2 separate regions of the Homo sapiens genome follow, and region 2 is linked to region 1. Evidence: fine-mapped expression QTL. A gene starts in region 1. The other region holds a variant in brackets. All regions are shown on one strand. Distances are from middle to middle.

What was found. PIP is the estimated chance that this variant, and not a neighbour inherited with it, causes the effect.
Region 2: its variant is the best candidate, but not a certain one, in a credible set for the expression of CDC37L1-DT in esophagus mucosa (GTEx, PIP 0.63).

Annotation. Positions count from the first base shown.
Region 1 is chr9:4,677,638-4,680,556 of GRCh38, reverse strand. CDC37L1-DT (CDC37L1 divergent transcript) reads left to right here and starts at 1,077. Exons shown (of 2, transcript NR_121598.1): 1 at 1,077-1,170. CDC37L1 (cell division cycle 37 like 1, HSP90 cochaperone) reads right to left here and starts at 988. Exons shown (of 7, transcript NM_017913.4): 1 at 658-988. The coding sequence starts at 789. RefSeq lists an enhancer at 765-854.
Region 2 is chr9:4,653,988-4,656,906 of GRCh38, reverse strand. It overlaps SPATA6L (spermatogenesis associated 6 like), which reads left to right. Exons shown (of 12, transcript NM_001353486.2): 3 at 818-866. Among named protein-coding and RNA genes, the nearest start is that of PLPP6, 6.8 kb to the left of the region's middle. The variant T/C (reference allele first, on the strand shown) is at 1,584.

The sequences.
Region 1 (2,919 bases):
CAGGAACCTAAGAGAAGTCTGAAGGAAAACACAAGTATATGCGTATATATTTTCACTGGAGAATGACGTGAAGCAAAACTAAAAAACAAAACAGTAAGGCAAAGATGGTCACGCGAATGGGAGAGGTGTACGCCAGCGTCAAAAGCGAGATTTAAAGAATTTACTCAGTTGTCAACATCGGTGAAAATCGCATGTGAAATCTTTGTCAGGACTCAGTGTGATGCTGAACTACAATCATTCACTGTTCCTAGCAACTGTGCACAAGTATGCTAGAGCCTTTAACAGAATAAAGTGCTTGGGGAAAACCTCTCACAAGAGGACAAAGGGTCAATGTTACAGCATGAGCCGCCCCAAATCTGAGTGCTGTCAGGAAGGGGAGATGGAGGAAGGTATTCCAAGAGTGAACAGGAATCAGCCAAGGCGAAAGAAAACATGTGCGTGGAGGTGGAGGTTGGTAATATATGGCCACCCCGTCTGCCCTCCGAAGATGCCATAAAAGGGGTGGGATGGCATCAGGCGTCAGGTCCCAGGTCCCCGGCCCCTGGCAGTGAGGTGGGCGTAGAAAAAGGCGTAGAAGAGGGTCTGGGAGACGCGGCATTCCAGGGGTTTGGCGACAGCACCACTCCATCCCTCCGCAGAACGCAGGCCCCTTCTCACCTGGGCGCCGCCGCCTGGCAGCTGCGGGCAGCGGGGAGAACTGGGGAACACGTCGAAGTCACTCTCTTCCTCAGCCTCACCCTCGGCCCGAGGGAGGCTCCAGGGTCCCGGAGGCGGCCACGGTTGTTCCATGTCCGGCTGCTCCGGGTCCTACAACCGCCCTTGGCCCTACAACTGCCACTGCCAACAGACTTGGCGTGAATGGAACCTGCTGCGCCGAGCCAGAAGCCCAGCCGGGGGTCCGGGCCGTTACCCAGAATCCCTCTACTGGCCGCGACGCCGCTGCACACCCGGCGACAGCCTGGGCCTCGCCACCGGCGGACGGCGGAAGAAATAGTCGGCGCGGTGCGTCACTTCCGGTTGGGGCGGGGCTGTGGAGGCGCGTCCCGGGCCCTTTGCGTGTAGTGGGTGGATCTGCAATTGTATTCCTGTTTCAAGCCCCGTTTTCTTGCAGCTCTTCGGCACTGCAAACCTAACCGCTAATGGCGCTGTGGGTGGAGAAACGTTTGTTAGGTAGCGTTATATATTGTTATCTGGTGTTCCCTATACCGAAAACGGCGGGTCCTGGCCGCCGGGAGGTACTCAGACCAGGTGTGCACTTTACATGTTGCTTAAAAATTGCAACTCATTCCTTTACATTGACATTTAAACCAGTGATTCTAAGGCAGAGTTGGGGCGGAGGGAGGAGAATTTTGAACAAGCGGAGCCAATTTTCGTCTCATTTCTAATTACAGGCAACAACAGAATTCTGCGAAACTTGGTTGGTTGGAGGAGCACACCAAAAATAAAGTACCGGAGCCGGCACGGCTTCAAAAAAATTAGGATCAGTACCGCTAGTAGCGAACGCATAAGAAGGGCTTCCTGTATGCCTGCGTATCTTGTTTAAGCCTAAAGATATGTACTCTCTTTATCCTCTTTTTTTGAGACGAGGAAGTAGACCCAGCATGCCCGAGATCACACATTTTACAAGGAAGAAGTAGGATCCAGACCCAGGGAGTTTAACTTCAAAACTTGAACGTTTAACAATCAGGTCTTGCTGCCCTACTCATAAAGAGACCCAAATAAAAACAACATGACGCCATTTTTTTCCATGTGTTTAGACTGGCAAACTTGTGAAGTCGCTTAATACCAAATGTGTACCAAGATGTAAGGAAATGATGTGAGAATGTCATTAGTATAACCTTTTAGGAGGAGTAATTTGACAATATGAGAGGCTTGAGCGGATTGATTCAGCAATTTCACCACTAAGAAAGTATGCAACAATTATTTTTGCACCAATATCCAAAGATTTACTACAAAGATTTCTGGCAGCAATTTTTGTGTGTGTGTGGCAAGAAAAAAAAAAGCATTCTAATTGTCCATCGATAGAGGAACTTAAAGTATGGAATATTAATACAATGGCATATTACCCTTTTTAAAAAAAGTAAATTGTATCTGAATATGCTGATATATAAATACCTCCAAAAGGTATTGAGTTTTAAACAAAGCAACTTGCAGAATTAAACATATGCGTACGTATACAGAGAGAGAAGAGAGAGGGATGGTATTTGTTTGCGTCCGTGTGTGTGTGTGTGTGTGTGTGTGTGTGTGTGTGTGTTTGCGCAGAACATTCCTGGAGGATATGCAAGAAACTGTTAATGATTACCTCTGGTGGGTGAGCCTAGGAAGGAAAGCTTCTGAGGATCTTTACTTTCCACATTTAGCTTCCCTGTACTGTGCTGTTTGAATATTTTTCCAATGAATGTATACTATAATTATAGTATTATAACAGTACAAGATTATAACAGTACAAGATTACTATAAAATTAATTACAAATAAAAGCTGAGAATCACTTTTGCACCTAAACCTTTTGAATTTAGGGGTGAAAGTCACAGGAGAGACTGGAAAGGGAGGAAGAAAAGAAAAACATTTTTCTCTTTGCTTCCATGAAGCCACAAAGTGCTTTGAATAGTGCCTGGCATAAAGTAAGCCCTATATAAACGCTAATGCTGTTAGTTTTTCTCCTACCTCTTTCACTACTTCTCCTCAGTCTTCTTCCCTTCTAGCTGACCTCTAACTTTAGAGTTCCTCATATTTTGGCCAGTGAGGAGAATCCTGTTTATTCCTGTGGCTTTAAATAACATCTGTGTATCTATAATTCTCAAATTGAAATCCAAGTCCTGACCTTACCCCTGTGCTCCAGACTCATGTCTACCCGCTGATTTGTCATCTCATTTTAATGGTTCATACACATCTTAAATTTAACACATCCAAACCCTTGA
Region 2 (2,919 bases), 24 kb after region 1:
TACGCATAGGTAATATTTCTTTTTATGTTCCTTTTTAGCACAACCAATTGCTTGGAGAGAGAAACCATTCATTCAGTTAACATTTAATGAGTATCTGTTGTATACAGAATGTTTTTCTAGGTAGTCAAACAACACTCTGGGGTTGATTTAAGATGGGCTTTTAGCAACAAACAGTAGAGCTAGGTCAAGTCGATGATATTTTTAGCATGTGGTAGATTTAGCTAATTGAAATTTTCTTGCACTTCTTATTGTTGTGTTAATTATCCTTCATTTATTCTATAATCACTTTTTGAACTTTTAATCAGACACCTATTAAAGGTGCATCTGCTGAATTCTAAAATGTTATGTGACTGGATTTTACATATGTTAATTACTTGGAAGAATATAATTTACGGCTCCTCCCTTCCTTCCTTCCTTCCTTCCTTCCTTCCTTCCTTCCTTCCTTCCTTCCTTCCTTCCTTCCTTTCTTTCACAGGGTCTCACTCTTTCTCCCATGCTGGAATGTGGTGATGCCATCTCGGCTCCCTGCAACCTCTGTCTCCTGTGCTCAAGTGACCCTCCAGCCTCAGCCCCACAAGTAGCTGGGAATACAGGCATGAGCCACCATGCCCAGCTAACTTTTGTATTTTTTGTAGAGAGAGGGTTTCACCATGTTGCCCAGGCTGGTCTGAAACTCCTGAGCTTAAGCAATACACCCACCTCGGCCTCCCAAAGTGCTAGGATTACAGGTGTGAGCTACTGCACCTGGCATTTACAGTTTCTATATGCGCTTATTAATACAACTTTGAAAATTTATTTTCCCCATTTTTCTCTGCAGGTATTTGAAAGTGCAGTAGATCCTGGAGCTGTAGTAGACCTTTTGGAAAGTAGGTACTCTGAAAAACAAAACAAAAAACCAAAAGACTATTGTGTGTAATTCACAGATTCAAAACTCTGCTCTTTTCTAAACTGTGATATGTTCATGTTTGATGAATATTTATTTCAAGACAGCCTACGTAAAATTTGAATCACATTTTTGATTCTGTTACATACCCTTTTCTATATATAGATGGGCTTGGCTGGGCACGGTGGCTCACATCTGTAATCCCAGCACTTTGGGAGGCCGAGGCGGGTGAATCCCTTGAGGTCAGGAGTTTGAGACCAGCCTGGTCAGCATGGTGAAACCCCATCTCTACTAAAAATACAACAAAATTAGCCGGATGTGGTGGCACATGCCTGTAGTCCCAGCTACCTGGGAGGCTGAGGCAGGAGAATCGCTTAAACCTGGGAGGCGGAGGTTACAGTGAGCCGAAATCGTGCCATTGCACTCCAGACTGGGTGGCAGAGCAAGACTCCATCTCAAAAAAAAAAACAACAAAAAAACAAAAAAACTAAATATAGATGGGCTTTGATGGATAGTATGATTCTGTTTGGTTGTTTATTTATAAAAATTGTTTTTATGTGTTTCATTAAATTAGAATATTTTTATCACCACAAAAAGCGGCCCTATGCCCATTAGCAATCACTCCCTATTCCCCACCAGCCCTCCTAGCTATAGGTAACCACTAATCTTTCCGTCTGTATAGATTTGCTTATTCTGGATA[T/C]TTCATATGAATGAGATTATACAACATGTGCTCCTTTGTGATTGAATTCTTAGTGTAATGTTTTCAAGATTCATCCATATTATAGCATGTGCCAGAACTTAATTTTTTGTATGGCCAAATAGTATTCTGTTGGATGAATATATCACATTTTGTTTTTCTAGTCATCAATTGATGGACATTTGGGTTGTTTCCACTTTTAGGCTATGATGAATAATGATGCTGTGAATATTTGTGTATAAGTTTTTGTGTGAACATATGTTTTAATGCCTCTTGGGTATACCTAGGAGTGAAATTGCTGGGTCATATTGATACAGGAGTGCTGGGAAGAGAAGAGAGTGGTACCTTTAAATGATATGGACCAGGGAAGGGAAGTGCTCGGTACAGGAAGGGTGTGGTCCCTGGCTAGGGCTCCATCCCCACAGACCTAGGTGAGGACAGGCACTCCTGCTTTCCCGCCCAAATGTTGCATTTCCCAAGACCATCCTGGCCCACCATGCCCCCATCCTGTGCCTGTAACAGACGGAGACCCTAGCAAGGCAGAGACAGAAGCGGCTGGACATCGAGAGGAGTACATTGGCACTGGCAGAACGACACGGAGTTTGGCCGGGGCAGTTGGAAGAGAGCCGGGGCTGCCGAGTGGCCCAACTCCAGGGGAAAACCATCTCCCTGCTGGCTCCCCCATCTGCTGAAAGCTACCCCCACTCAATAAAACCTCACACTCATTCTCCAAGCCCATGTGTGATCCTATTCTTCCAGTACACCAAGGCAAGAAACCCGGGGGTACAGAAAGCCCTCTGTCCTTGCGACATGGTAGAGGGTCTAATTGAGCTAACACAAGCCACCTATAGACGGCAAACTGTAAAACACACCCACTGGGGCTTCACAAGCTGTAAACATTCACCCCTAGATAGTGCTATGGGGTCGGAACCCCACAGCCTGCCCCCGTCTGTCTGCTCCTCTAGAGGTTTGAGCAGCGGAGCACTGAAGAAGCGAGCCACACCCCCATCGCACGTCCTGAGAGGGGGACAAAGGAGCTTTTCCCATTTCAATGTGGTAACTGTATGTTTAACCTTTTAAAGAAGTTTCACATTATTTACCAAAGCAGCTGAATCATTTTACATCCCACCAGCAATGTATGAGGGTTCCATTTTCCCACATCCTGGCCGACACTTGTTATTGTCTGTCATTTTGATTGGTAGTCATCTTTGTGGGTGTGAAGTGGTATCTCGTCATTGTTTTGATTTGCATTTCCCTGATGGCTAATGATATTGAACACATTTTCATGAGATATTTGGCCATTTGTGTATTTTCTTTGGGGGAAATGTCTATTCAGATC